7 linked regions of the Homo sapiens genome follow. The protein of the gene in region 1 interacts with the protein of each later gene in a biochemical or structural test. Each region holds a gene or a part of one and is shown in the gene's direction. Other genes may lie near its edges. The genes, in order: PSMD9, PROCR, SLC15A5, ARHGEF16, FRMPD4, RASSF6 and MAP2K2.

Region 1 (4,281 bases):
CCAGCCAATTGGCAAGAGCCCTGTAGCAGGGGTGCCCTTTGGCCACCTCCCTGTGGACTCCCTCTCCTGGACTGAATGTCTCCAGGATTACTAGGCTTATGCAGCACTTTTTTTTTTTTTTTTTGAGACGAATTCTTGCTTTGTCGCCAGGCTGGAGGGCAGTGGTGCGATCTCGGCTCACTGCAACCTCCACCTCCTGGGTTCAAGTAATTCTCCTGCTTCAGCCTCCCAAGTAGCTGGGATTACAGGCACCCGCCACCACGCCCAGCTAATTTTTGTTTTTGTTTTGTTTTGTTTTGTTTTTGAGACGGAGTCTTGCTCTGTTGCCCAGGCTAGAGTGCAGTGGCGCGATCTCGGCTCACTGCAATCTCCGCCTCCCTGGTTCACGCCAATCTCCTGCCTCAGCCTCCCGAGTAGCTGGGACTACAGGCGCCTGCCATCATGCCCGGCTAATTTTTGTATTTTTAGTAGAGACGGGGTTTCACCGTGTTAGCCAGGATGGTCTCCATCTCCTGACCTCGTGATCCGGCCACCTTGACTTCCCAAAGTTCTGGGATTACAGGCCTGAGCCACCACGCTCGGCCTAATTTTTGTATTTTTTAGTAGAGACGGGGTTTCACCATGTTGGCAAGGTGGTCGCGATCTCTTGACCTCGTGATCTGCCTGCCTCGGCCTCCCACAGTGCTGGGATTACAGGCGTGAGCCTCTGTGCCCGGCTTATGCAGCATTTTTCCTTCTAGAGGATTTCAGAGAAAAGTGAAATCTTGATTACACCCAGCCTGAGTCATTCATTCACATGATCACAGCGCTGGCCCCTCATACATATGCCTTTGAGTTCATGGCTGTGGATTCAGCTGGTTGTTACCTTCCTTCTGCTCACCTCTCAGGGCTCACCCGAGACAGCACTGCCTTCAGGAAGCCTTCCCTCATATCCTAGACTAGCGAGGGCAGACTTTGCTGCTGGCCAGGCCTCCCTGCAGTCATCAGATGTTATTGTAATTACTTATTCTGGAGCTGCTCCTTGCAGGACTGAATGCTCCATGAGGGAATGTCCTCTGTCTTGGTCAGAGACTCCTTCTCACCTCTAGCTCCACATCTGGCATGTAATAAGCACTTGTTAACTCTTCAGTGAATAAATGTAGGAGTCTTGTGTCCTCCACTGTCTTCCTTGGCCCCTGATGTGTGGTTCTCATCCCAGGCCTGCAGAATGATCACAAGGCAGTGATGAAGCAGGTGGAGGAGGCCCTGCACCAGCTGCACGCTCGCGACAAGGAGAAGCAGGCCCGGGACATGGCTGAGGCCCACAAAGAGGCCATGAGCCGCAAACTGGGTCAGAGTGAGAGCCAGGGCCCTCCACGGGCCTTCGCCAAAGTGAACAGCATCAGCCCCGGCTCCCCAGCCAGCATCGCGGTAATCCAGGGGTTGGCCACTCAAGTCCATGCCCAGGGGACACGGTGGGTCAGGTAGCCTTCGGGGATGTGGAAAGACAGACTAGTTCTCTCCGTGCTGCGGTGCTGAGTTCAGTTACTCATTTAACAAACACTGACTGAGGCCTGTCGTGTATCCAGCCCTGTGCTGGGGGCAGAGTTTTAGAGAGGGGTCAGCCCCGGCTGCCCACTACATTGGTGGGGGAGTGACCTCTTCCCAGTGACAGAAGATGATAAATGTCCCAAGAGAGGGAGAGGATCTCTTCTTGGGGCTCATTTTAGCTGGGCACTGAATGATGAAAATGAGAATGGCATCTTGCCAAATGAGTTATGCATCTTATGTGGTGTCTTAAAAAAAACATTAGGCTGGGCACAGTGGCTCATGCGTGTAATCCCAGCACTTGAGAAGGCTGAGGCGACTTGGAAAGCTGAGATGGGAGGATCACTTGGGCTCAGGAAGTCGAAGTTGCAGTGAGCTGTGACTGTGCCACTGCACTCCAGCCTGGGTGACAGAGTGAGACCTTGTCTTAAAAAAAATTTTTTTTTGACCGGGAGCATTGGCTCACGCCTGTAATCCCAGCATGTTGGGAGGCCGAGGCCAGTGGATCACTTGAGGTCAGGAGTTCGAGACCAACCTGGCCAACATGGCGAAACCCCGTCTCTACTAAAAATACGAAAATCATGCCACTGCACTCCAGCCTGGGCAACAGAGTGAGACTCCGTCTCAAAAAAAAAAAAAAAATTTACCCATTTAAAGTCCGTATACAGTTTAGTGTCTTTTGGTGTATTCACAGAGCCATGCATTACCACAATCAATTTTCTTTCTATTTAAAAAATTTGCAGCCAGGTGCAGTGGCTCACGCCTGTAATCCCAGCACTTTGGGAGGCTTAGGTGGGCGATCACCTTATGTCAGGAGTTCAAGACCAGCCTGGCCAACATGGCGAAACCCCATCTCTACTAAAAATACAAACATTAGCCGGGTGTGGTGACATGTGCCTGTAATCCCAGCTACTCGGGAGGCTGAGGCAGGAGAATCGCCTGAACCCAGGAGGTGGAGGTTGCAGTGAGCGGAGATCGTGCCACTACACTCCAGAGCCTGGGCGACAGAGTGAGACTCTGTCTAAAAAAAAAAAAAAAAAAAAAAGGAGATGGGGTTTCGCTCTGTTGCGTAGGTTGGTCTCCATCTCCTGGGCTCAAGTGATTCTACCACCTTGGCCTCCCAAAATGCTGGGATTATAGGCATGAGCCACCATGCCCAGCCATAATCAATTTCAGAACATTGTCATTGTCTTGTAAAGAAACTCTGTAGTGATTTGCCATCACTTCCCAATCCCCCAGCTCCCCGCACCCAGTTATCTACTTTCTGTCTCTATGTATTTGTCTATTCTGGATATTTCCTATAAGTTGAATCATATAATATGTGACCTTTTATGACTGGCTTCTTTCACTTAGCAAATTTTCAAGTCATCTGTATTGAGCATGGATCAGTGCTTCATTTGTTTACAGACAGGGTCTCACTCTCTCACCCAGACTTCAGTGCCATGGTGCCATCATAGCTCACTGCAACCTCAAACTCGCAGAGTCAAGTGATCCTCCTGTCTCAGCCTCCCAAGCAGCTAGGACTGTAGGCACATGTAACCATGCCTGGTTAATTTTTTATTTCCTTTTTTTTTTAGAGATGGGTTCTCACTATGTTGCCCAGGCTGGTCTTGAACTCCTGGCCTCAAGCGATCCTTCTTCCTCGGCCTCCCAAAGTGCTAGAATTACAGGCATGAGCTGTCATGCCTGGCCCTTCATTCCTTCTTTTTTTTTTTTTTTTTTTTTTTTTTTGAGACGGAGTCTCGCTCTGTCGCCCAGGCTGGAGTGCAGTGGCACGATCTCGGCTCACTGCAAGCTCCGCCTCCCAGGTTCACGCCATTCTCCTGCCTCATCCTCCCGAGTAGCTGGGACTACAGGCGCCTGCCATCACGTCCAGCTAATTTTTATTTTTTGTATTTTTAGTAGAGACAGGGTTTCACTTTGTTAGCCAGGGTGGTCTCGATCTCCTGACCTCGTGATCCGCCCGCCTCAGCCTCCCAAAGTGCTGGGATTACAGGCGTGAGCCACTGTGCCTGGCCCTTCATTCCTTTTTATGGCCAAATAATATTCCACTGCCTGGATATATCATATTTTATTTATCCATTTGTCAGTTAATGGACATTTGAATTGTTACCACTTTTTGGCTATTACGAAGCATGTTGCTGCGAACATTCTTGTACAGTTTTTTTGTGGAGATGTAGTTAAATTTAATTCCACAGCCACTTCTGGGATAGGTCCTAATCTTTACTCATTTCATCCTCGAGGAAAAGCCTTGCAGACCTGAAGTAACTTATGTCAGGACACATAGTTCCTGCCAGGTGGAATGGGGTCCTAAACCCTGGTCAGGACACATAGTTCCTGCCAGGTGGAATGGGGTCCTAAACCCTGGTCAGGACACATAGTTCCTGCCAGGTGGAATGGGGTCCTAAACCCTGGTCCTACCAGTCTTCTTTAATGGTCACAAGTCTGTAAGTTACACAGAAGCTCCCTATCATTCACTACCCCATCTACTGCATCTAACCCAGTGCCAGTTGGCCCACAACAAATACTTGTTACAGGGGTGAATGAGTGGTGGTCTGTCTTCTTAGGACCTAGAACAAGAGCGTCACTCTAGTCTTGGATGCGCCCTGTGCCTGTGGCTGCTTGTCTGGGGGCTTCTAGGGCAAGTGTCTTGTCTAAATGTTGATCACTGAATAAAATGGGCCCAGCCTGGCTTGCCTTCTCTTACCCTTGAACCTGGGTTAGGACCGCAGAGAGCAGCATTTGGCCTTTCCC
Region 2 (3,572 bases), on another chromosome or scaffold:
AAGCTGACTCTGCCCGCAGGCCTCCAAAGACTTCATATGCTCCAGATCTCCTACTTCCGCGACCCCTATCACGTGTGGTACCAGGGCAACGCGTCGCTGGGGGGACACCTAACGCACGTGCTGGAAGGCCCAGACACCAACACCACGATCATTCAGCTGCAGCCCTTGCAGGAGCCCGAGAGCTGGGCGCGCACGCAGAGTGGCCTGCAGTCCTACCTGCTCCAGTTCCACGGCCTCGTGCGCCTGGTGCACCAGGAGCGGACCTTGGCCTGTGAGTAGGCGCGCAGCGGGGGCGGGGTCTGGGCGGGGCTAGTGGGGGCGGGGCCTGGCGGGTGGGGGCGGGGCCTGGCGGATGGAGGCGGGCTGGGACTTGCAGGGACCCGGCAGCCACTGGAGCTCGGTGGCGCCTGGGCCTTTGAAGATTGCTGGGTGGGGGCTGGAGAGAGGCAGTTGTCCCCGCTAAGAAAGCCCCGACTCGGGCGGTCGTCCTGCTGGCATAACCTCTTGGGATAGACCCTGTTGGAAGGCCCTGACACCGTGACGTCGAAGGTCCCCAGAAAACTCCTCACCCCTCGCCTCACAGTCCTCCAACTCCTTTTCTTCATAGATCTCCGTCCTTCCCTTCCCACAGCCCCCAGCACTTCACCCCCCACCCTCCAGCCACTTCTCATACAAGCTGATGACTTCGCTCTTAGCTCCACTCATGACCCGAACTCTTCCCCCAAAGACCCCAAGTTCTTCTCTCAAAGCCCCACTCCTTCCCCGTCACAACCCTAACTCCTTCTTCTCAAAGACCCCAATTTCTTTTCTCAAAGCACCAAGCACCACTCCGTCCCCCTTCCCCCACCATCATGGCCTTTAACTCCTTTCTCTCCTAGTCCCCCACCCCACCCCCCTTTTTTTTTTTTTTTTTTTTTTTTGAGACGGAGTCTTGCTCTGTCGTCCAGGCTGGAGTGCAGTGGCGCGATCTCGGCTCACTGCAACTTCCGCCTCCCGGGTTCAAGCGATTCTCCTGCCTCAGCCTCCCAAGCAGCTGGGACTACAGGCACCCGCCACCACGCCCGGCTAATTTTTTGTATTTTTAGTAGAGACGGGGTTTCGCCATGTTGGCCAGGCTGGTCTCGAACTCCTGACCTCAGGCGATCCACAAGCCTGGCCTCCCAAAGTGCTGGGATTACAGGCGTGAGCTGCCGCCCCTGCCCCAGCCTCACCCCCTGTTTTTTTTTTCTATTACAGTTGAACAAGGCCTGACAATTCCCTTTTTTCATCACAGTCCCTGGCCCCTTCTTTCTTAGCCTCTAACAGGCTAACCCCAAACCCCTCCTCACAGCCCCAGGCCCTTCTCCCCATAGTTCCCTGACCTAGACTCCCCTCTCCTCACAGCACTGACTCTTGCCTTCTCATGTTCTTTTCCCCTTGGTGGGCCTCGCCCCACACCTGGCACCCTCTCTGCACAGTCCCCTGACCCTGACTGTCTATCCACAGTTCCTCTGACCATCCGCTGCTTCCTGGGCTGTGAGCTGCCTCCCGAGGGCTCTAGAGCCCATGTCTTCTTCGAAGTGGCTGTGAATGGGAGCTCCTTTGTGAGTTTCCGGCCGGAGAGAGCCTTGTGGCAGGCAGACACCCAGGTCACCTCCGGAGTGGTCACCTTCACCCTGCAGCAGCTCAATGCCTACAACCGCACTCGGTATGAACTGCGGGAATTCCTGGAGGACACCTGTGTGCAGTATGTGCAGAAACATATTTCCGCGGAAAACACGAAAGGTATGATGGGACGGGGCCCAGGCCTGCAAGCTGGGGAGAGGGCGGGTTCCAGACAAATGGATGGACCTGAAGGATGGATGCCTAGAGCAACAAGAGGCCCACAGCTGGGGGTTTGGGACAGAACACACGCAGCTTCAGTCAGTTGGTAAACGGGTCCCTTTCCTCTGGGGCAGAAACGCTTTGGGGTTTGACTCAAATCATGGACTCCTTGGGGGCCTATTCTTCGGGCTAACTCTTTGCATGTTCTGCAGGGAGCCAAACAAGCCGCTCCTACACTTCGCTGGTCCTGGGCGTCCTGGTGGGCAGTTTCATCATTGCTGGTGTGGCTGTAGGCATCTTCCTGTGCACAGGTGGACGGCGATGTTAATTACTCTCCAGCCCCCTCAGAAGGGGCTGGATTGATGGAGGCTGGCAAGGGAAAGTTTCAGCTCACTGTGAAGCCAGACTCCCCAACTGAAACACCAGAAGGTTTGGAGTGACAGCTCCTTTCTTCTCCCACATCTGCCCACTGAAGATTTGAGGGAGGGGAGATGGAGAGGAGAGGTGGACAAAGTACTTGGTTTGCTAAGAACCTAAGAACGTGTATGCTTTGCTGAATTAGTCTGATAAGTGAATGTTTATCTATCTTTGTGGAAAACAGATAATGGAGTTGGGGCAGGAAGCCTATGGCCCATCCTCCAAAGACAGACAGAATCACCTGAGGCGTTCAAAAGATATAACCAAATAAACAAGTCATCCACAATCAAAATACAACATTCAATACTTCCAGGTGTGTCAGACTTGGGATGGGACGCTGATATAATAGGGTAGAAAGAAGTAACACGAAGAAGTGGTGGAAATGTAAAATCCAAGTCATATGGCAGTGATCAATTATTAATCAATTAATAATATTAATAAATTTCTTATATTTAAGGCATTGTTATCTCCTCCACTTTGCAAAATTTCTGGAAAAGTAACCTATACCCATTTCTTCTGCTTCCTTATTTCTCACTCATTCTTTTTTTTTTTTTTTTTTTTTTTGAGACAGAGTCTTGCTCTGTTGCCTAGGCTGGAGTGCAATGGTGTGATCTCAGCTCACTGCAACCTCTGCCTCCCGGTTCAAGCAATTCTCCTGCCTCAGCCTCCCAAGCAGCTGGGATTACAGATGCATGCCACCACACCCAGCTAATTTTTGTATTTTTAGTAGAGATGGGGTTTCACCACGTTGGCCATCCTGACCTCGTGATCCGCCTACCTCGGCCTCCCCAAGTGCTGGGATTAGACGTGAGCCACTGCGCCTGGTCTTCTCACTCATTCTTAGACCCAGTGCAATCTGACTTCTCTATAAACTACTCTGAGATCACCAGTAACCTCTAATTGTCAAACCATCACCCTACATGGTATCTGCAAATTTGCGGACTAGAACTCTCTTTTTGCCTTAACTTCTGAGATACCATACTTCAATTTTTAAAACTGTTCTGTCTACTTTTTTTCAATCCCTTTGACTATGTCATCTTACACGATTCACCCTGGAAATGCTGGCTTCCTTAGAATTCCATTTTTTGGTTCCTTTTGTTCCTGTTTGAACTATACCCTTTCTAGGTGACCTACTGACCTTCATGGCTGCAAATACTATCTACCTGTGGTTTCCATGGAGAAGCAATATAATTTTATCTTTAAGAGCATGTGTTTTGTCGGCCAGGCGCGGTGGCTCACGCCTGTAATCCCAGCACTTTGGGAGGCCGAGGCGAGAGGATCACTTGAGGTCAGGAGTTCAAGACAAGCCTGGCCAACACAGTGAAACCCTATCTCTACTAAAAATACAAAAA
Region 3 (4,984 bases), about 110 Mb from region 1:
TTATAAGGGGTTTCCCTTTTCGCTTGGCTACGATTTTTCTCTCTTGCCTGCTGCCATGTAAGATAATGCCTTTTGCCTTCCGTCATGATTGTGAGGCCACCCCAGCCAGGTGAAACTGTAGGTCCATTAAACCTCTTTCCTTTATAATTATCCAGTCTCGGATATGTCTTTATTAGCAGCATGAAAACAGACTAATACACTGCCATCTGAATAACTCAGCTGCCACCATGCCCATTCTTAAGTCATTCCACTCAAGATTAAAATTCCACAGGAGAAAAGTAAAAGGACTATCTTAGACCGGGTGTTGACCCACTTGGTTAGAAGAAAAGGCATATGCTGATCAACAGCCCCACCATGATCTCAGGTAATAGATAGGAGTCATTCTCCAAAGGTAGGGTGAACACATGTTAGAGTGTTGCCCTGGACAGTCCCAGTTTATAACTGTTTTTTTTTTTTGGGGAGTAACCATAAATAGCATCACTTTTCACCTGCACAAAACTGTCCAAGTTTGGATCATAAATTGCATGATCAATTTACACAAAGGAAATTTAGGGCATCGTTACCAAAGTAGCAATGCTGAGCAGAGACAAATAGCTACCATTACAATGAGGCTATTAGAAGGGGTCAAAACAGAGTATTTTGCCCCCAGTCTCTCACAACCAAAAGATGATAACCAGAGTCAAAAGTCCCTATTGGTCTTTAGGTTTTGACTACAGCATGAAAATAACATTCCTATACTCAAGTGTTGAATTATTATGACTTTGACCCAATAGTTCCGGTCCCTTTTCTTCCTATGTCCTTGCAGCTAAGCCACTAAATGTTAAGGTGTTCTCTTTCACTGCTGCTTTTTTAGCTTAATTGGCCCTCCTGCTTTCCAAAATAGAATGCTAACACCCATTCACCCAGCTGAAGGGTCAGGGTGATACCAGATCCAATATTCCCCAAAGCCTGTGTAGGCTGGTTGCTGTATCCCTGACTACTGATTAATAATAAAGGAGTTAAATAGCACCTTTTGATTCTGATTTCCTCTGAGAGGCTGTTCTACAAGCATGGGGTCAACTAAAAGGAAGCAGGGTTTCGTTTAATATTTTCTCCTTTCATTAGTGCACTTAAATTACTTTCTTGTAAACTCTGCTTGTTACCTAAATGTACTAGCACTTTTGTTACCTAATTAAGTTTCTTATCAGAATTCCAACCAAAAATAACAAGAAATGTAATAATGATAAGATATCGTGCCCTTCAAAACAGATTTCCTTTTGCGCTTTATCTCTTGGTACTGTTCTGGCTTGTTTAATTAAAGTATCAGAAATTATTAGACTCAAATTATTTCTTGATCTAGTGCTCAAATTCTCCCGAAAACCTGCTTCTTCTGCCTCAATATTTAAACCTTTATCAGTATGAGGCAGATGAGTTTCCACATGTTTGCAACTGGATTCATGTAATTCAATACAATTTTGGAGGACGATCCTAATTTAGCCGCTAAGTAATTAAGCAAACAAATCAGATTTGGGTACACTGAGCTACTGTGAACATTTAAATACTCATGCTCTTGGATCATCAAAAGGAACAACGTCCATGTGCAAAAAACAAACCTTATGAAATTCTAGCATGGAGATGTGAAATTCAAAGCAACGTTCTTATTTTTTTCATCAGAGGGATGGGGCTCAAAATATCACCAAGTTCAAACCACTAACATAAGTTTTGTTCAAGGAGGGTAGTCATGTCTGTTACAGGCTTTACCATAACTGATGAGAAAGTACACTTATATCACAGCATTGAGAAGGAGAAAACTGTAAGACATATTGGCGATTTGTGTTCCTCACACTCTGTGAAAAAAATTCAGGTTGGAATCTGCTTGCTTCTGGTGGAGCTGTGTGAGAGGTTCACGTTCTTTGAAGTCGTCTGCAACATGATCCCCTTTTGCACTATCAAGCTTGGCTATCACAATTGCCAAGCAGCCATCTTAAACTTGTGTTTTATTGGAACTTCAATACTTACCCCTGTGTTTGTCAGATGGCTCACTGATGTCTATTTAGGAAGAAACAAACTGGTGTACATTTGCTTGTTTCTACATTTTCTAGGTGAGTGTCCTCTGCTGACTGGATTGTTTTGTGACTTAATTAAGTAGATTTTTGTTAGAATTTTTAGTTTATATTATTTTCACTCTGCTCTTAGCATAAAATGTGATAAATGAAGTAAGAATGTGGGTTCAATGTATTTCATTCTTTGTACTATTTGAAGAATGCTAGTAAGTCTGTGTGTGTGTGTGTGTGTGTTAGAGAATGTTTTGTGCCTATATCATTGCATTTATATTTTATAATAATTACTCCTTTACATATCTATCTTACTCCTTAGAATGCCCTCCTTTCCCAAAACCTTTTTACCTCAAGCCTAAATTCATGACAAATTCCCTCAGAAATGTGAAATGTATTTGCTTCACAACTAAGATGAAATGTGCTAAAAAAGGTTTTTGAAGTTCATGTAAAATAATTGAGAAATGTTTTTATCCAAAGGTGGTCTTTTAATTAGTCATATAGTAATTAAGATTGCATATGATGGCATGATTTCTATATTTTTAACTATGATTATATGCTTTAGAAATGAGTAAATTAGACACTATAGTGTGCATCTTTACATATATACTAATATATATCTGCAAAAGTTTGGGACCGATTGTGAGAAATGCTGGGAAAATATCAAGATAGTTTAATAAGAAATAGAGAGCAACTTGAAGAACAGACTAGAATTTTAAACTGAAAAGTTCAAGTTATTCTTCTTAAGCAACAAGAAGTCTCTGAAAATATCATGAAAACAACATTTGAGAAATGCTATTCTGCAATACAGGATGGACAACCACAGTGAGGAATTAAATAGAGAGAGATCAGAAAATCTCAGGATGATGGTTTAAGCAATAAAGTGCCAATTCAGGAGAGAACAAGTGAAAAGCTGTAAGGCAACTAAATAAAGGTACAAATGTGATGGGGGTCAAAAATTAGCTCCAAGTTTCTGATCTGAGCAACTTGGGAATATAGCATGCTGTTCACCAATAATGAGAAGTGCAGCTGAAATGAGTATTGGTAGGGGGACAGATGAGAAAGAGATGGATAGATATCAGGTACTCAACATATCACACAATCTCAGGCAGGTGGTAAATTACCATTCAGAGAATCCATTGGAGTTTAAGTCAAACCTGGAAACTTCACAGCTTTAGTTCTGTGGAATAAAAACTAGGTCACTGCATGGCAAATAATCACTCAACATTCAACAAATATTTCTTATTGACTACTCTGTACCAGACATTATTCTGGGTCTGGAAATGCAATAGAGAAGAAAGTCGTCTGTTCCTGCTAAAGTTGACTTTTTGGTGCAGGGAGAGAGAAAATAAAAGAGGAAATAGATATGATGTCATGTGGCAATGAGTTAGGATGGAAAAATAAAGCTGGGTAGGGGGACAGGATGGAATGGATGGTGATGAGGCTGCTACTTGGTACCGAGAAAAAGTTTTCTGATAAGAAGACATTTAAGCAAATCCCAGACTAACTTACTCTGCTTACCTTGGTAACAGGCCACACCAGTAGCATTTGTTGACTTCTTGTTTAACATGGTAATTTCTATCAGTCTAAATTCTGAGGTCAGTCATCAGACAGGATGGAAATCCCAACTTTGGAATCTGGCAAACAAAAGACTTAAGTCAACTCTACATCCATTCATTTTTTTACTAAAAGTTATTTCTTTGTTGCCCTCCACTTACAGCTGCCATCAAATTCCAACTGTCACTAAATTTCAGAGGTTATATATAAGAAAGGTCTTCTGTCTGAATTGCTACTACCCTAGCTGAAAAAATGCAGCTTTCTTCTTTTTAACCATTCCAATGGCCTACTTACTCGGCTGCCAGTTCTCAGTCAGTCTCCAGCTTGTACTCCATTCTACCAACAACACTGACTTCCTGAACAAATAAATCTCTATATTGCTTCTATTATCTAAAAAATGAAATCCAAACTTATTAATTTAGCATACAACAACCTTACCAACCTATTCTAAGTTCACCTCTCTAGACTTGTTGTTCAACACGCAACCCCAACCTTGCTAACTTCTCCTGGCCTCCTTCCCTAGTTTTCTAATCTTGTACATGCTCTTCTCTCTTTCTGAAATTGTCACCTTCCCTTATCTTTCCATCCCTTATCCATGATTGGAAAACTCCTGCTATTCTTTCAAGAACCAAATAGTGTTTGTTGCTAGCTTCTCTGTGTTCAACCACACCCATATAATACTTATACGATTGCATCCATCACTTTATAATATAATTGTCCACCTGCATGGCTGACTTCTCTGATGGACTCAACATTTCCTTCAGCGGACCCCCATCACCTGGCAGGGGGTATGACACATCATGGTGCTTCTACAGAGCTACTAAATGCAGGCATACTGATGATGAGATACACAATTGCACACATCACAGAGGAGACTTTTCTTCATATATGTCATTGTTTTGTCTCTTTACTGCATCATTTTACAACAGATAGGGATAAAGTTTTGATTTAACACAATCAGCCTATTATGACATTTTCTCAAAAGATGGAAGTAAAGTGCCTAAGTTACACAAATATATCATTCAAACTAAAAGTGCCTTGTTCCTAATAGTTCCTGCATGAAATAGTTGTCCTGTCCCTCCTCTTTGGACATCCCTTTGTCTAGCCAGGCCTCACGTCACACCTACAGAAGAGAAGACTAAGTGGTAGAAAGAGAGCAGTTAGTTTCATATCTGGCTAACCTTAAAAGGGAACATTTCAAACTCAATAATTTAAAGGGCTCACCTCATGGTAAATGAATCTGTTGCCAAATAGCTATTAAGGGCATATAGTCTTTACATTGTGAAAGCCTCTGTAGGGGAGATGGAAGCATTAGACCAAATTTTTATCTGTAAGGAATTTATAATCTAATTGAGAAAACAAATCACATGAAATAACTGTATAAAAATTTATAC
Region 4 (4,281 bases), on another chromosome or scaffold:
GCGCTGGGAGATGATTAGGGGCCTGTAGTGCCTGGCACAGGGCTGCCCCAACAGTGGTGGTTGCTGGCGCATTCTTATATCAGCCCCGCCCCTGGCGAGTCCCACCCATCTGCTGCCTGTGGGGTGCCCTTGCGGAACTTTGGGGCCCTGAGGGTGGGCAGGGAGCCGCCTTGTCCCTGGAGACAGGGGCTTCCTGTAGAGCTCCAGGGACCAGCTATGGGAAACTCCCAACCTCTGACTCAGCATGGGATGGGGCTGGGGGAGGGGGAGGGGTCTGGGATAGCGGCTGCCCCTCCCCCAGCTCTGCCCCCAGCCAGGCAGGCTTTGTGTTCTCTGAGCTCTGTGTCCTCCGGTCCCCTCTGCCTCAGGCAGCTGCATGTTTGCCTCTGACCTCCTCAGGGCTTTAGATTGCTGCCCTGGGGCGGGAAGCTCCGGCCTCCTCCCCCAGCTGGGCCCCCGACAGCTCCTGGCATTCACAGTGAACTGTCTGGGGAATCATCGCTATTTGGGGTAAGCGGCTGGTGGGCGGCTCTCCCAGACCTTTCTCAGAACCTGCAGTCACCCATATGAGCTGCTGACCGGCCTGGCCGGCCTGGGCACGTACGCATGTCGTGGCCCTGCTCATCCAGCAACCGAGGCCTCCCATGACCTGCTGGGTCCTCGTCCACGGGGACTGCAGCTCCATCTGCTGGGGATTCTCAAGGGCAAGCAGCTGTCAGGACACTCTCCCTGCAGGAAGCGTGGCTCCTGCGTGGGTGGCAGGCCCAGTCGGGCCCCGTGAGCAGAGGAGGAGGGACTCCCGCCCACCTCCACGCTGGGTAAGGGAGTCCTCCGAAGGACAGAGCTCTTGGGCTGGGAGGACCTCCTGTGGCGGCGGCCTGGAGACACGGATGTGGTCTCGGGTTGGGTGCTCTGAGGGTCTGCAGGATGGACGAGGCTCCAGCCACCGCCTCACACAGCAGGTGACCATCGTGGGTCCAGCCAAGCCCAGCCTTGGTGGCCGTGGCCGCCCATGGGGGCAGAATCCTGGCAGCCCTGGCCTAGCTCTGACCAAGTGTTAACTCCCTTCATCCTGATCACCCTGGACCAAGGCCTGGGTCATGGGGAGGTGAGGGGCTGGTAGCCCCTTCCAGGGAGTCTGCCAAGAGCCCACAGCTGGCCCCCCCCCGGCCTTGACTGTTCCCTCAGAACGGGGTGGGGGACCTAGTGAAAGTAAACAGTTCATGAACCCAGCTGGGAGCTTGACCAGCAGAGCTGCCTCGGATTTGGGACTCATCCTTGGAAGGGGTGGCCCCAGGCATCGCCCCTCTTTGCTCTTGTGCCTGTCCCCTGAGTCTCCGTCCTTGAGTTTCTTCCCAGGGGCAAGCTGGTGCGGCAGCGGGGGCCCGGGCCTGTGTGGAGGCCCAGTCGTTTTAGCTGGAAGGAGCTTGAAGGGCGAAGGGCACCAACTGGACAGGGCACCAGGACAGGAGGTCCAAATGGGCCCGCCTTTGGGGACAGTCCCTGGGGCTGCCCCTGGACAACAGAGGGACGGCACCAGTGCGTGGGATCGTGGCAGGGGGCTCTGTAAGGAGCCCCAGGCCTCTGACCACTTCCCACCCGCCCTCCCTGCTGTCCAGCATCCCAGGTCCGGGTCCCGCCCCAAGTGCTTGCTGTGTGCTGCCTCTGGGAGCTGAGCTCAGCTCCTGCCACGTCCATGTATGTGTGAGTGTGCATGCAGATGCATGTCTGTGTGTGCACACGTGGGGCCCGACCACCAGGCCCGTGGCACCCTCCTCACCCCTCCTTGCCTTCAGGTTCTTCGAGGACCTGGAGCAGCGGCACAAGGCCCAGGTGCTGGTCGAGGACATCAGTGACATCCTGGAGGAGCACGCTGAGAAGCACTTCCACCCCTACATCGCCTACTGCTCCAACGAGGTCTACCAACAGCGCACGCTGCAGAAGCTGATGTGAGTGGGCGGCCCCGAGGCCCGCAGGGTGGCTCAGGAGCATCCTGCACCCTGGTCTCCCAAAGCACATTCCTGCTCCCAGCCCAGCTTCTGCAGGTCCTGCCTGATTTTGGTACAGGCTGGCCATGCAGAGCCTGGAAGGACAGCCTTGTCCTCTTGCAGAAGCAGCAACGCCGCCTTCCGAGAGGCCCTGAGAGAGATTGAGAGGCGGCCGGCGTGCGGGGGCCTGCCCATGCTCTCCTTCCTGATCCTCCCCATGCAGCGGGTGACCCGGCTGCCCCTCCTGATGGATGTAAGTCCACGGCCTGAGGGTGGGGCCGGGCATACCATCCTGGGGTCCCACGGCCAGAGCCCTGCCCCGGATGGAGCATTACGTGCTTGTGACCTTCTCCTCCAGGCTTGGCCTATGATATTGTAATAGTTACGATCCTAAGATGGCTTTATTAACCAGGATAACTTTGTGGTCGCCGCCACCCACAGAGCTCACTGTGCCGGGAACTGTTCCAGCCCTTGGCGGATTTGTGTTCACTTACTCAATGGTTCATGAGGTTCAGGCACACTGACGAGTTGGAACTGGCATCACCCAGAGCCCTGCTGAGCCTCCTCCCAGCCCCCACCCCACCAGTCCTCCTAGACGTGGTAGCCCTGTCCCTGGCACCTACTCTCCCTGTTCTGTGGACGCAGAGAGGGGCTCAGAGAGGCTCACCAGCATGGGCTGTGTGTGTGGGATGCCAGCCCACAGGGCAGAGGGTATATGAGGGTGAAAGGTGTACACACACACGCACACATGTATATACAGTGTACACGCACTCAGGCACGTATGTGCCCATGTGCACACAATGCATATGTATGGATGCACGCCAGTACACACATGCATGCACACTTGCACACACTGCATTGCACCGATGCATGCACATGTGCACACAATGCACACGTTTGCATACATGCACACACAGGCACTGCACACACATGCACCCGGTGCACACACATACACGTGGATGCACACACATGCATGCACATGGTGCACAGGCATATTCACACATGTGCATGCTGCCCATACACACAGCCCCGCACATGGCAGGACTGAGCTAAGCTTCCTGAGGCTACACATGGCAGGGTTGCCCAAGCCAAACAGAACCTCAAACTCCTGGGGGCCCCAGGGATGTGCAGAAATGGGGCTGCCAGGGGGCCTCCACTGACGATTCCCCAAGTTGGATGGAGATGGCCGAGGATGGGAAGGGAAGGGTTCCAGGCAGGGGTGCTAGCTCCTGTTCCCACTCAACCTGGCCTGACCTGGCAGAGCTCCAGGTGGTGCAGAGGCCGTTCAGGGGCTGTACGTGCTGTGGGGCCCTGCAGGAGCCCCCTGGGGGCAGCTGTTGACCACCCTGCAGCCCCACACGGGGTCTGGCGTTGGTGGGAGCCTCCACACCTGGGATGCCAGAGGGGACTTTCTGTCCCATGTCTGTTGTCCATCCAGACGCTCTGCCTCAAGACCCAGGGCCACTCCGAAAGGTACAAGGCTGCCAGCCGTGCACTGAAGGCCATCAGCAAGGTAAGATGGGGCCTGGCCCCAGCCCTACCCGAGTCCTGTACCCCGACCCTGTCCCCACCCAACCCCACCCTACCCGATGGCATAGGGCTGGCTTCCCCTACCTTCCAGGGCAGCGAGTGTTCTCAGATTATCCATCCCAAGCCTTTCACAGCGCTGACAGGGAAACTGAGGCCCAGAGGTTCCCAGATTATCCATCCCAAGCCTTTCACAGCGCTGACAGGGAAACTGAGGCCCAGAGGTTCCCAGATTATCCATCCCAAGCCTTTCACAGCGCTGACAGGGAAACTGAGGCCCAGAGGTTCCCAGATTATCCATCCCAGGCCTTTCACGGCGCTGACAGGGAAACTGAGGCCCAGAGGTTCCCAGATTATCCATCCCAGGCCTTTCACGGCGCTGACAGGGAAACTGAGGCCCAGAGGTTCCCAGATTATCCATCCCAGGCCTTTCACGGCGCTGACAGGGAAACTGAGGCCCAGAGGTTCCCAGATTATCCATCCCAGGCCTTTCACGGCGCTGACAGGGAAACTGAGGCCCAGAGGTTCCCAGATTATCCATCCCAGGCCTTTCACGGCGCTGACAGGGAAACTGAGGCCCAGAGGTTCCCAGATTATCCATCCCAGGCCTTTCACAGCGCTGACAGGGAAACTGAGGCCCAGAGGTTCCCAGATTATCCATCCCAGGCCTTTCACAGCGCTGACAGGGAAACTGAGGCCCAGAGGTTCCCAGATTATCCATCCCAGGCCTTTCACAGCGCTGACAGGGAAACTGAGGCCCAGAGGT
Region 5 (4,281 bases), on another chromosome or scaffold:
TCTACAAGGCAATATCAACAGAATGACCCAGTTCTCTGTCTTGTTAAATATCAGAGCAAATCTCCACATCAAAATTCCAGATTGAAAGATGCTTGAAGAGCAAACAAAATAATAGTATTTAAATTGGGGTTTTGTAATTTTAATCCATGAGGAACATGAAACAAATTTTCAGGAGTTCCTATGATACAAACAAAAATTGAAATTAATCTAAATATTAATTATGCTTAGAAATTACAGAGAAAAGTACGTTACCTGTGACCATGCCACCTTATGCATTTTATACACACACACACACATATACACATGGGCATGCATGCTGACATTTATACATGAATATTTTAACATCCACTAGGATATCAAAAGACTGAAGATAGAAGTTTTGTACTATCATTACAACATTTATCTTAATTTCCTAAAAACTATGGTAAAACTCTGACGATCCTTGACCGTCTCTGAATTCAATGAGGAAAACACTCAATATCTTCCTCCATGAAGTAGGGAATATTAAATCTCACCTTACAAGGAAAAGAACAATTAATGTTCTGGAATAACGGCCTATTGAAATCTCACCTTTAAGGGTAAAAGACATGTTGTATATTTACATTTGTAGATATGAATGAAGCCTTTTAATAATAGAACCAAGGGTCAGATGGAATTAAGCTATACTTCCCTACCCCCAGATGGTATTACATTTTATCAAATAGCAATTACAGTTTATGCAGTATCAATTTTGTTAAGGTCGGTTCTCCTAACCCAAGGAATTCTTACACCTGAAGCCTAAATCAATAAGTACTATATTTGGGTAGTTGAAAAACTGTATTTACATAAGTGATGCTACAAGCCATTAAGTTAAAAAACAGAGACGAGCCTCCCACCCCCGCCCCACCCAAAACCAGACAGTACAGTAATGTGTCTTTGCGTGATTCTTTCTCTTTAGGACCTGAAAACAAGGGGAAGCATAACCTCCTTGGCCCAGATTGGAACTGTATACCCCAAATGACCACCTTTATTGGCGAAGGGGAACAAGAAGCCCAGATAACATACATAGATTCAAAGCAGAAGACGGTGGAGATCACAGACAGCACCATGTGTCCAAAAGAGCACCGGCACTTGTACATAGACAATGCCTATAGTTCAGATGGACTTAACCAGCAGCTGAGCCAGCCCGGGGAGGCCCCCTGTGAGGCAGACTACAGAAGTCTAGCTCAGCGGTCCCTATTGACCCTCTCAGGACCAGAAACTCTGAAGAAAGCACAGGAATCTCCGAGAGGAGCTAAAGTGTCCTTTATTTTTGGAGACTTCGCCTTGGATGATGGTATTAGTCCCCCAACCCTTGGCTATGAAACGCTACTAGATGAGGGTCCTGAAATGCTGGAGAAGCAGAGAAATCTCTACATTGGCAGTGCCAATGACATGAAGGGCCTGGATCTCACTCCAGAGGCAGAGGGCATCCAGTTTGTGGAAAATTCTGTTTATGCAAACATAGGCGATGTGAAGAGCTTCCAGGCCGCGGAGGGGATCGAGGAACCCCTCTTGCATGACATCTGTTATGCAGAAAACACTGATGACGCGGAGGACGAGGACGAGGTGAGCTGCGAGGAGGACCTCGTGGTGGGGGAGATGAACCAGCCGGCCATCCTCAACCTGTCTGGGTCAAGCGATGACATCATTGACCTCACATCCCTGCCCCCTCCAGAAGGTGATGACAATGAGGATGACTTCCTGTTGCGTTCCTTGAACATGGCCATTGCCGCACCCCCACCTGGCTTTAGAGACAGTTCAGATGAAGAGGACTCTCAGAGCCAGGCAGCTTCCTTCCCCGAGGACAAGGAGAAAGGCAGCAGCCTGCAAAATGATGAGATCCCCGTGTCCCTCATTGACGCTGTGCCCACCAGCGCCGAAGGCAAGTGTGAGAAGGGACTGGATAATGCCGTCGTCTCCACGCTGGGAGCTCTAGAGGCTCTATCCGTGTCAGAAGAACAGCAGACCAGTGACAATTCAGGTTCTTTCACAATTGTTACATTCATTCACTGATAACCATATCATTCCATCCTTCCAAGCCATTTGCCCCTGGAGTCCTGTTACGTGGTGTTCTCCATTTCACACATGTCCCATTTCATAAATGTGCTGAAACTGCCATCATGGGTTTTTTTGTGTGTATGTGATTTCCTTTGTTATTTTTTTTTAAAAACATAAGGCACATCTCCCCCCACCCCCATTTCTGGAAAAACTGCAATAAACTCAGAGTCCTTACTGAAAAGGGAAAAACTTGGTATTTTGTTTTAGTAATAACGAGTCCCATTTTCTTACATGTCTCCAAGTGCCTCTGATGCATCCATTAATCAGTTCTTGTTTTTTACGGCATGCAGGTGTAGCCATCTTGCGGGCTTATAGTCCTGAGTCTTCGTCAGACTCGGGCAATGAAACTAACTCTTCTGAAATGACTGAGAGTTCTGAACTGGCCACAGCACAAAAACAGTCAGAAAACCTCTCCCGCATGTTCTTGGCCACTCACGAAGGCTACCACCCCCTTGCAGAAGAGCAGACCGAGTTCCCGGCCTCCAAGACCCCCGCTGGGGGCTTGCCTCCAAAGTCCTCGCACGCCCTGGCTGCTAGGCCAGCAACCGACCTCCCGCCCAAAGTTGTGCCTTCCAAGCAGTTACTTCACTCAGACCACATGGAGATGGAGCCTGAAACTATGGAGACTAAGTCGGTCACTGACTATTTTAGCAAACTGCACATGGGGTCGGTGGCATACTCCTGCACTAGCAAAAGGAAAAGCAAGCTGGCCGATGGTGAGGGGAAGGCACCCCCTAATGGGAACACAACAGGAAAAAAACAGCAGGGGACCAAAACGGCAGAGATGGAGGAGGAGGCCAGTGGTAAATTTGGTACTGTGTCTTCACGAGACAGTCAACACCTGAGCACTTTTAATCTGGAGAGAACTGCCTTTCGCAAGGACAGTCAAAGATGGTATGTGGCCACTGAAGGTGGGATGGCTGAAAAAAGTGGATTAGAAGCAGCAACAGGGAAAACCTTTCCAAGAGCTTCTGGTCTTGGGGCAAGGGAGGCCGAAGGGAAGGAAGAAGGAGCTCCTGATGGAGAAACCAGTGATGGCTCAGGACTTGGTCAAGGGGACCGCTTCTTAACTGACGTGACCTGTGCATCTTCAGCCAAAGACTTAGATAACCCAGAGGACGCTGACTCGTCCACCTGCGACCATCCTTCCAAGCTTCCTGAGGCTGATGAGAGTGTGGCCCGCCTTTGTGACTACCACTTGGCCAAGCGGATGTCATCACTGCAAAGCGAGGGCCATTTTTCTCTGCAGAGCTCCCAAGGCTCTTCAGTGGATGCAGGCTGTGGCACAGGCAGCAGTGGCAGTGCCTGTGCCACACCCGTGGAGTCGCCGCTCTGCCCCTCCCTGGGGAAGCACTTGATTCCTGACGCTTCTGGGAAAGGCGTGAATTACATTCCTTCAGAGGAGAGAGCCCCTGGGCTTCCCAACCACGGAGCCACCTTTAAGGAACTGCACCCACAGACAGAAGGGATGTGTCCACGGATGACAGTGCCTGCTCTGCACACAGCCATTAACACCGAACCCCTGTTTGGCACATTGAGAGATGGATGCCATCGGCTCCCCAAGATTAAGGAAACCACAGGTACAGCAATGATGGATTTAGCACTTTGTATGACATGCCAAGAGCATGTAAACCATATTTACAACAAACTTAAAAACGTAATGTCTGGAAGAAAAGTAAAAGGTAGAATTTTAAAAGGCCACAGAACTGTAAAGTACCAATCATTGATCCCCTGGTATTTAATAAATACTAAAGATTATAAAGGTGAAAATGGCATTTGCTCTTTATAATCTTACTCTGTGCTTGCTTTCAGAATTGGATGGGGCAATATGTTTTTCCTAAATTCTAAATGCAGATGTTTAGCAATGCCCAGTGTGACTTTTAGTTATATGATAGTATTGCTTAGAGTCACATAACAGTTTGATTTTCTTCCCAAGACATCTGAGTTCTAATTCTGCCATTTCATTATTGAGGGACAAGGAAGGATAAGAGAGCAGGGTATCAGGGAGATTGGAGGGGTTTGGAGAGATCATTTGCCTTTCGGCAATCTTACTGATTCCTCCCTACTCTGTAAGACTGCTCTATATGGATGTTCTGAAGTGTCTTGCATACCCCAGTGTCAGGAAGATTTTGAGGCTATTCCTGATGAGCTGCTTTATTTTCCCCAAAATAATAAAGTGTAAACACACGTAGAAAAAAGAAC
Region 6 (4,281 bases), on another chromosome or scaffold:
ACTTATCTTTTTAACAGTCCAATGAGCCACCCCAAAACCCACCCATCTCTACATCTGCTGAACCCACCCCATTTCTACAGAGCCTTGGAATACTTGGAGATTGTGCATATAAATAAAATATGTGGAAATAAATCCTTACTTAATATCTCTATCCGTTTTTAAATATGCATCTGGTGACATTCTTTCTTACTTATTTTGAAATCTTAAACTGCACTAAAGAGGGGTGTAATTGTCCAGTGAAAATGTTATAAGCATCCTCAAATGGTGTTTTACCTAATTTACTCTAGAAACAATATAAAGCTGCTTAAAAGAACACATAATATTCAAAAACAACAAAGAAAAACAAACAAAAACAAAACAAATTTTTTAAATTAATGACCTTGGATTTTTTTTGCCCTATAAGAAGATTATGTTCAAGATATTGAATACCCTTAATATAATATAATTTTAAAGACTTATGTGACAATTCTTTTTCTAGACATCAATTTTCATTCCAGCCTTTGAATCAGAAACTAAGGTCAGAGTAAACAGTAACATGAGAACTGAAGAAGTAATAAAGCAACTTCTCCAAAAATTTAAGGTAACCTTTATCACTTAACTGAGCTATAAATATATTATATATAATTCAACTATAAACACACAAATCCACTCTTCTGAAACAGATCTATAAAGGTGTAAATCTAAATTGGATGTTGAGCACTGAAAGATTCTTTCCTTTGTATAACACCTTTTAGTAACTATCCCTTGAAAAATTATATAATTCCCATAAGAGCAGAGAAGATTTTATGTCTAAAAGTGAAAAATGGAAGAGAGAAAACAGACATGATTTGGGTCTGGTCAGGTTAGAAAACATCATATAACAACAAAGAATTTATATTTGTTCATTTTTTCCCTTGACAGATTGAAAATAGTCCCCAGGATTTTGCTCTTCACATTATTTTTGCAACAGGAGGTAAGAAAGCTTGATCACACTTTTTACCTGACTCTAGAGTGCTACAGTTTGCTGCCCAGGGGGAAGGCAGAAGAACAGTTTGCCTCATTCTGTGGAGAAAGGGGAGGAATGGGTAGGAGAAAAGGAAGGAGTGGTCTTTAGAACATTATCTATAGTCCACAATTTTAAAGAAAGATAACTTAAGAATAAGGTATCCCTGAAGGGTTGATTATATGAAAGAGTTTGCTTGTTGGCCAGACATTAAATTATCTAAATGGAGATCAAAACCCTCTGGAACTGTTTCGGCACTTTTGTCTTTGCTCACCTCTGTAACTTTCTTTTTGGCTTTCCTTTCTGAGTGTTGCTCTTAGAGGAGTCATGATTGCATACCTGTTCTCTCTGACATTGATATTGCCTCTTTTTTAGCACAGGGTCTGACACATTGCGGGAGTGCTATCTCTTCCTCAGTAGAGATGCATATTCAGAACTTCGTGGTGAGGGGTGAAAGGTTAGAAGCAGAACATTGGGAAGGCGCTGTAAGTGGGATGCTAGGAGCATAATAGAGAGAATAGAGAAAACTTAAAGTGATACTGAAATGAAAGTTTTTAAAACTTCACAAATGAAAAATTTTATATATCAATTTGTAGAAAAAACTCATGCTATAATTTAAGTGTCAGAATGTTCAAGCCAGAAATTTATTAGAATAAAATAATACATTTTGATGCCAGAACACCTTAAGAAAATGAAAGCTGTATCTCTAAACATATATAAAATTAAAGTTCTTATAATTGAAAGCTTAAAGATCTATAATTAAAGACTTAAACGTTAGACCTAAAACCATAAAAACCCTAGAAGAAAACCTAGGCATTACCATTCAGGACATAGGCATGGGCAAGGACTTCATGTCTAAAACACCAAAAGCAATGGCAACAAAAGCCAAAATTGACAAATGGGATCTCATTAAACTAAAGAGCTTCTGCACAGCAAAAGAAACTACCATCAGAGTGAACAGGCAACCTACAAAATGGGAGGAAATTTTCGCAACCTACTCATCTGACAAAGAGCTAATATCCAGAATCTACAATGAACTCAAACAAATTTACAAGAAAAAAACAAACAACCCCATCAAAAAGTGGGCAAAGGACATGAATAGACACTTCTCAAAAGAAGACATTTATGCAGCCAAAAAACACATGAAAAAATGCTCACCATCACTGGCCATCAGAGAAATGCAAATCAAAACCACAATGAGATACCATCTCACACCAGTTAGAATGGCAATCATTAAAAAGTCAGGAAACAACAGGTACTGGAGAGGATGTGGAGAAATAGGAACACTTTTACACTGTTTGTGGGACTGTAAACTAGTTCAACCATTGTGGAAGTCAGTGTGGCGATTCCTCAGGGATCTAGAACTAGAAATACCATTTGACCCAGCCATCCCATTACTGGGTATATACCCAAAGGACTATAAATCATGCTGCTATAAAGACACATGCACACGTATGTTTATTGCGGCATTATTCACAATAGCAAAGACTTGGAAGCAACCCAAATGTCCAACAATGATAGACTGGATTAAGAAAATGTGGCACATATACACCATGGAATACTATGCATCCATAAAAAATGATGAGTTCATGTCCTTTGTAGGGACATGGATGAAATTGGAAATCATCATTCTTAGTAAACTATCGCAAGAACAAAAAACCAAACACCGCATATTCTCACTCATAGGTGGGAATTGAACAATGAGAACACATGGACACAGGAAGGGGAACATCACACTCTGGGGACTGTTGTGGGGTCGGGGGAGGGGGGAGGGATAGCATTAGGAGATACACCTAATGCTAGATGACGAGTTAGTGGGTGCAGCACACCAGCATGGCACATGTATAGATATGTAACTAACCTGCACATTGTGCACATGTACCCTAAAACTTAAAGTATAATAATAATAAAAATAAAATAAAATAAAATAAAGATCTATTTTTTGGAAAATTCTAAGGACACATATATATTCATATTCTAGTTGTTTAGGAAAGAAAGAAAACCAAAAGATATAAAATAAATGGTAGCAATACTGGACTGTGTAACAATTTAAAAGATACAAATAGTAGATTACAAAGAATATTGTCAATGTACTCCAAAGATTAATAACTATAATACCAATAATTTCCTACAAAATGGTAACAAAACAACAGACAATCCGATAAAAATAGAAAAAAGCATGAAAATACAATTGAAAGGAAAAACCATAATAACCAGTTAAATAGTTTTAGAAAAGTCTTAAATTCAGTGAAATGCAAGTAGCTAAGGAAATGCAAGCTCAAGCCACACCGTAATATTATCTTGCACTTCTCAGATTGGCAAAATGCTTTAAAATGATTCTACCCATGGCTGGCATGCATCAGGGTAAAAAGATATTTTTATGCAACACTAGTGAAAATATGACTTTCTTCTTATTGGAATTTATTCTTGCAATATTTATTAAAATTTACAGTATATATGTCCTTTAACTTGACCATTCCATTTGTGAGAATCTATCCCACAAAAATATAAGCACTAGTGCCTACAGATTTATGTGTAACACTGTTTATAAGGACAAAAAGCTAAAGACAAAGTTACTCATCCTAGGGAAATGATTAAATAAGTGATTGTTAGGCTGCCATTGAATGGAATGAGTAGATTTATGCCAATAGAATGGAGGGAGTTCCATAATATATTTTAAGTGAGAAATGCAAGATGCCTAAAGGTATATATAAAAGATCCCATTTTTTAAACAGTTACAAGCTCCCATTTAAGTATGTGGTATATATGGTCTTATGACTAGGGAGAAAGGTATGGAGTGATAAATACAAAACCATTGAGATAGATTACCTGGTGGGGGATTGGGGAAATGCAGATGAGAGGATGAGAAGGGGGGTGTCAGGCACGGTGGCTCATGCCTGTAATCCCAGCACTTTGGCAGGCCGAGGTGGGCGGATCATTTGAGGTCATGAGTTTGAGACCAGCCTGACCACTATGGTGAAACCCCGTCTTTACTAAAAATACCAAAAAAATTAGCCAGGTGTGGTGGCGCACACCTGTAATCCCAGCTACTCAGGAAGCTGAGACAGGAGAATCGCTTGAACTCAGGAGGCGGAGGTTGCAGTGAGCTGAGATCGTGCCATTGCACTCCGTCTAAAAAAAAAAAAAAGAGAAAAAATGATTTGTTTAAAGGTGTGTACAATAAAAATAGCAAGCACGATATGATTACCTTTATGTATTATGAGTTGTGTGAGGGGGACACTCAAAGGGTAATGCAGAGTATCTCAGGGCTTGGAAATTCCAGTTGTGCTTTACTTCCT
Region 7 (4,281 bases), on another chromosome or scaffold:
AGCTCTGTCGCCCAGGCTGGAGTGCAGTGGCACAATCTTGGCTCACTGCAAGCTCCACCTCCCAGGTTCACGCCATTCTCCCGCCTCAGCCTCCCGAGTAGCTGGGACTACAGGCGCCCGCCACCACAGCCGGCTAATTTTTTGTATTTTTAGTAGAGACGGGGTTTCGCTGTGTTAGCCAGGATGGTCTCGATCTCCTGACCTCGTGATCCGCCTGCCTCTGCCTCCCAAAAGTGCTGGGATTACAGGCGTGAGCCACCGCGCCCGGCAAGTTTTTTTGTAGATATGGGATGGCACTATGTTTCCCAGGCTAATCTTGAACTCCTGGGCTCAAACGATTCTCCCGCCTCAGCCTCCCAAAGTGCTGGGATTACAGGGGTGAGCCACCGTGCCCAGTGATGTATTTATATAAAATGGCAAGCACTTGTTGGTGACTGGAACTTAGGAACAGTGGGGCTGGCTGCTTCCCTGGGGTCTGAACCTATTACTGGATAACTCGGGGCAAGAACCCAGTGGACAGTGGGGCCTCATGGGATGGGGAAAGGAGAGCCAGTGGCTTACGGACCTCGTAGAGGTGCCCCTTGGCCTTTCTGGGGGTCTCGTCCTATCTGCTGAAGAATGCCCGTCTTGTTCTACTGTAATGGAAACTGGACATGTCCATCAGTAAGGGAGTGATTAAAGAATGATATTTGGCTGCTTTGCAGTGGCAAAGTGAAATCCACAATGGTGTACTGAATGGGAGTATCCCCACAGTACAACACTATTCATGTAGTGGAGGGGTGGTTGTAGAAAATAAACATAGCATGGGCTGGGTGCAGTGGCTCACGTTTGTAATCCTAGCACTTTGGGAGGCCAAGGCAGGCGGATCACGAGGTCAAGAGTTCAAGACCATCCTGGCCAACATGGTGAAACCCCATCTATACTAAAAATACAAAATTAGCTGGGCATGGTGGCGCACGCCTGTAGTCCCAGCTCCTCAGGAGGCTGAGGCAGGAGAATCACATGCACCCGGGAGGCGGAGGTTGCAGTGAGCCGAGATCATGCCACTGCACTCCAGCCTGGCGACAGCAAGACTCCATTTCAAAATAAAAGAAAAATAAAATAAACATAGCATTGGCCCATTCATTTGTTTATTGTATTTTCAAGTCAGGGTCTTGCTCAGTTGTCCAGCCTGGAGTGTACTGGTGCTGTCCTCCCACGTCAGCCTCCCGAGTAGTTGAGACCACAGGCGTGAGCCACCATGCACAGCTAATTTATTTGCTTATTTGTGTAGAGATAGGGTCTCTCCATATTGCCCAGACTGGTCTTGAACTCCTGGCCACAAGTGACCCTCCTGCCTCGGCCTCCCAAAGTGCTGGGATTACAGACATGAGCCCATTTCGATGTTGTTTTAAACTCTGGCTGGGCAAGCATGCTTTAATCCCAGTGCTTTGGGAGAATCCCATGAGCCCAGTAGGTCGAGGCTGCAGTGAGCTATGATTGAGCCACTGCTCTACAGCCTGGGCAAGAGAGTGAGTCCCGAGTCTGTGTTTCCAAATACACAGCAAGATGCGGGGGCCAGGTGCTCACTCCTGTGATCCCAGCACTTTGGGAGGCTGAAGTGGGAGGACCTCTTCAGCCAGGACTTCGAGAGCAGCCTGGGCAACATGAGGAACCCCCGTCTCTACAAAAAATTAGCAGGACATGGTGGCGCGCCTGTACTCCCAGCTACTTGGGAAGCTGAGGTGGGAGGACTGCCTGAACCAAGGAGGTGGAGGCTGCAGTGAGCCAAGATCACAGCACTATGCTGCAGTCTGGGCGACCCCTGCCTGAAAGAAAGAAAGAGAGAGATGAAGAAAGATCTGGAACAATATAAGTCACACTTGAGGGGGGAATGGTGGAAGTGATGCGGCGTCCAGGTTATTTATCCTCATTTGAATTTTTTATAAGAAAAATGTGTTTGCCGGGTGCGGTGGCTCAAGCCTGTAATCCCAGCACTTTGGGAGGCCGAGGCGGGCGGATCACGAGGTCAGGAGATCGAGACCATCCTGGCTAACACCAGTAGTGAAACCCCATCTCTACTAAAAATACAAAAAATTAGCCGAGTGTGGTGGCGGGCACCTGTAGTCCCAGCTACTCAGGAGGCTGAGGCAGGAGAATGGCGTGAACCCGGGAGGCGGAGCTTGCAGTGAGCCGAGATGGTGCCACTGCACCCCCGCCTGGGCAACAGAGCGAGACTCCGCCTCAGGAAAAAAAAAAAAAGAAAGAAAAATGTGTTCACCTACTACCTACGTAACAAAATTACAGTTACAAGACCATTTTAAACATCACACACACACACACACACACACACACACACACACACACACACACACACGGTAGACGTGTATGGTCATGCACAGAGTGAGATTTGGGGTCAGCAGTACACAGCTGCAATACCCCCTGCACCACATCCTGTCTCTGTGACTCAGACAAATTGCTTACCCTGCCAGACTTTGGTCTTTATAGCTGGAGATCAGCCCTTCTCAACCAGGGGCAGTTCTCCCTCCCAGGAGACACCTGGCACTGTCTGGGGATGTGTGTGGTTGTCACAACTGGGGGATGCTCCTGGCGTGGAGTGGATGGAGGCCAGGGACGCTACTCAGCGCCCTGCAGTGCCCAGGTCGGCCCCACCCCAGAGAGTGACCTGGCCCCGATGTCACAGTGGAGAAAGGCGGCTGCAGAGAGAGCGATGCTCCTGTGAGGCGTCTTCCACCAGCTCCTGAGGCTGCAGCACAGCGCTCCGCCCGCCCTCATCTCCGGGGAGAGGCTCTTTGAATTTTCTCACTAAACAAACATTGATTGCGGCCCCAGGAGAAACGAAGACGGAAGGAGCTGTGCTGGGGAGCAGGGGTTTTAGGGTTGCGTTTGGTGCGTCTGTTTGGTTTTCGCCACCCTGCCTCTTTCGAGTCGTTGGTCTCTTTCTGGTTTTTGTTTTTTTGAGACAGGGTCTTGCTCTGTCACCCAGGCTGGAGTGCAGTGGTGTGATCTCGGCTCACTGCAACCTTGACCTCCCAGGTTCAAGGGATCCTCCCACCTCAGCCTTCTGAGTAGCTGGGACTACAGGCGTGCACCACCACGCCCGGCTGATTTTGGTATGGGGTCTCACTGTGTGGCTCGGGATGGTCTCAAACTCCTCAGCTCAAGCATTCTTTTTGCTTTGGCCTCCCAAAGTGGTAGGATTATAGGTGTGCGCCACCACGTGCGGCTTTTTTTTTTTTTTTTTTTAATTGAGGAGTCTTGCTCTCTCGCCCAGGCGAGAGAGAAGTGGCACGATCTCGACTCACAGCAACCTCTGCCTCCCAGGTTCAAGTGATCTTCCTGCCTCAGCCTCCCGAGTAGCTGAGATTACAGGCATCCACCACCACGCCCAGCTAATTTTTTTTATTTTTAGTGGAGATGGGGTTTTACCATATTGGCCAGGCTGGTCTCAAACTCCTGACCTCAAGTGATCCGCCTGCCTCAGCCTCCCAAAGTCCTGGCATTACAGGCGTGAGTCACCGCTCCCAGCCCATGTCCGGCCTCATTTTAAGTAATTCTTTTAAGGTAGATTGATAAAAACTGAGAATAGAAGCAGCTTCCACCTGGCCCTGGCTCACTGGAGCTCCCGTCCTGGCACCTCCTCCTGGGCTGTCTGAGCCCTGGCCATACCTGCCCTCTCACCCTGTGTGTCTGCGTCTTCAGCCTGGAGCTGGTGGATGGAGTCACGTGTATGCTTTAGAGGTCTCAAAGCGTGTTGGGTTTTCTAGAACTGCCTTCGGCCTTTCTCTCCAAGCCTAGCTGGGCAGAAGTGGCCAGAGAGCGGCAACCCGGGCACCCCTGAGTCCCAGGATTTCTCCCCCGGCTCCTCCCACCCATGTGAATGAAAGCCATCCCAGGGAAGGCTGGGCTTTTGCAGGAGTCCTGGAGCAGCATGGTGGGGAAATCCAGGCTCCCCAGCCAGCCTCTCCAGGCTCCTCCAGCCCGCCCTCTCTAGCCTCAGTTCCACTTTCCTCTCTGCTGAGCACAGAAGAGACGCACGCCAGACGGTGGCAGTGGGAACTTGGCCTGTCACCCCTGCTGTCCTGGGGGTGGCCTGGCAGGTGTGTCCGGAGCCTCTGCCTCTGAAGAGGCACCTTGGGTGGCTCCCAGTGCCTGGGGTTTTGGCATTTGGGGGTTTTGGTCCCCAGGTTTGTTGCCAGGCAGCCTTGGGCAAGACATGGAATTTCTGTTTCATCATTTATGACATGGATGTGGGGCCACACCCGGGGACCAGCCTACCCA

What was found.
Region 2: the proteins of PSMD9 (region 1) and PROCR form a complex in vitro, tested with the Homo sapiens proteins (one study listed by IntAct).
Region 3: the proteins of PSMD9 (region 1) and SLC15A5 interact in a test that uses a peptide from one of them, tested with the Homo sapiens proteins (one large-scale study listed by IntAct).
Region 4: the proteins of PSMD9 (region 1) and ARHGEF16 interact in a test that uses a peptide from one of them, tested with the Homo sapiens proteins (one large-scale study listed by IntAct).
Region 5: the proteins of PSMD9 (region 1) and FRMPD4 interact in a test that uses a peptide from one of them, tested with the Homo sapiens proteins (one large-scale study listed by IntAct).
Region 6: the proteins of PSMD9 (region 1) and RASSF6 interact in a test that uses a peptide from one of them, tested with the Homo sapiens proteins (one large-scale study listed by IntAct).
Region 7: the proteins of PSMD9 (region 1) and MAP2K2 interact in a test that uses a peptide from one of them, tested with the Homo sapiens proteins (one large-scale study listed by IntAct).

What each region holds. Positions count from the first base shown.
Region 1 is NC_000012.12:121,898,436-121,902,716, forward strand, and holds part of PSMD9 (26S proteasome non-ATPase regulatory subunit 9), read left to right. Parts: intron 1-1,198; coding exon 1,199-1,410; intron 1,411-4,281. UniProt on the Homo sapiens protein: Acts as a chaperone during the assembly of the 26S proteasome, specifically of the base subcomplex of the PA700/19S regulatory complex (RC).
Region 2 is NC_000020.11:35,174,683-35,178,254, forward strand, and holds the end of PROCR (endothelial protein C receptor precursor), read left to right. Parts: intron 1-19; coding exon 20-271; intron 272-1,485; coding exon 1,486-1,764; intron 1,765-2,015; coding exon 2,016-2,131; 3' UTR 2,132-2,680; downstream 2,681-3,572. UniProt on the Homo sapiens protein: Binds activated protein C. Enhances protein C activation by the thrombin-thrombomodulin complex; plays a role in the protein C pathway controlling blood coagulation.
Region 3 is NC_000012.12:16,274,422-16,279,405, reverse strand, and holds the start of SLC15A5 (solute carrier family 15 member 5), read left to right. Parts: upstream 1-1,720; coding exon 1,721-2,081; intron 2,082-2,880; exon of another isoform or gene 2,881-3,213; intron 3,214-3,554; exon of another isoform or gene 3,555-4,881; intron 4,882-4,984. UniProt on the Homo sapiens protein: Proton oligopeptide cotransporter.
Region 4 is NC_000001.11:3,471,282-3,475,562, forward strand, and holds part of ARHGEF16 (rho guanine nucleotide exchange factor 16), read left to right. Parts: intron 1-1,796; coding exon 1,797-1,949; intron 1,950-2,111; coding exon 2,112-2,241; intron 2,242-3,426; coding exon 3,427-3,501; intron 3,502-4,281. UniProt on the Homo sapiens protein: Guanyl-nucleotide exchange factor of the RHOG GTPase stimulating the exchange of RHOG-associated GDP for GTP. May play a role in chemotactic cell migration by mediating the activation of RAC1 by EPHA2.
Region 5 is NC_000023.11:12,715,132-12,719,412, forward strand, and holds part of FRMPD4 (FERM and PDZ domain-containing protein 4), read left to right. Parts: intron 1-937; coding exon 938-2,002; intron 2,003-2,369; coding exon 2,370-3,659; intron 3,660-4,281. UniProt on the Homo sapiens protein: Positive regulator of dendritic spine morphogenesis and density. Required for the maintenance of excitatory synaptic transmission. Binds phosphatidylinositol 4,5-bisphosphate.
Region 6 is NC_000004.12:73,578,488-73,582,768, reverse strand, and holds part of RASSF6 (ras association domain-containing protein 6), read left to right. Parts: exon of another isoform or gene 1-163; intron 164-478; coding exon 479-580; intron 581-900; coding exon 901-952; intron 953-4,281.
Region 7 is NC_000019.10:4,103,231-4,107,511, reverse strand, and holds part of MAP2K2 (dual specificity mitogen-activated protein kinase kinase 2), read left to right. Parts: intron 1-4,281. UniProt on the Homo sapiens protein: Catalyzes the concomitant phosphorylation of a threonine and a tyrosine residue in a Thr-Glu-Tyr sequence located in MAP kinases. Activates the ERK1 and ERK2 MAP kinases.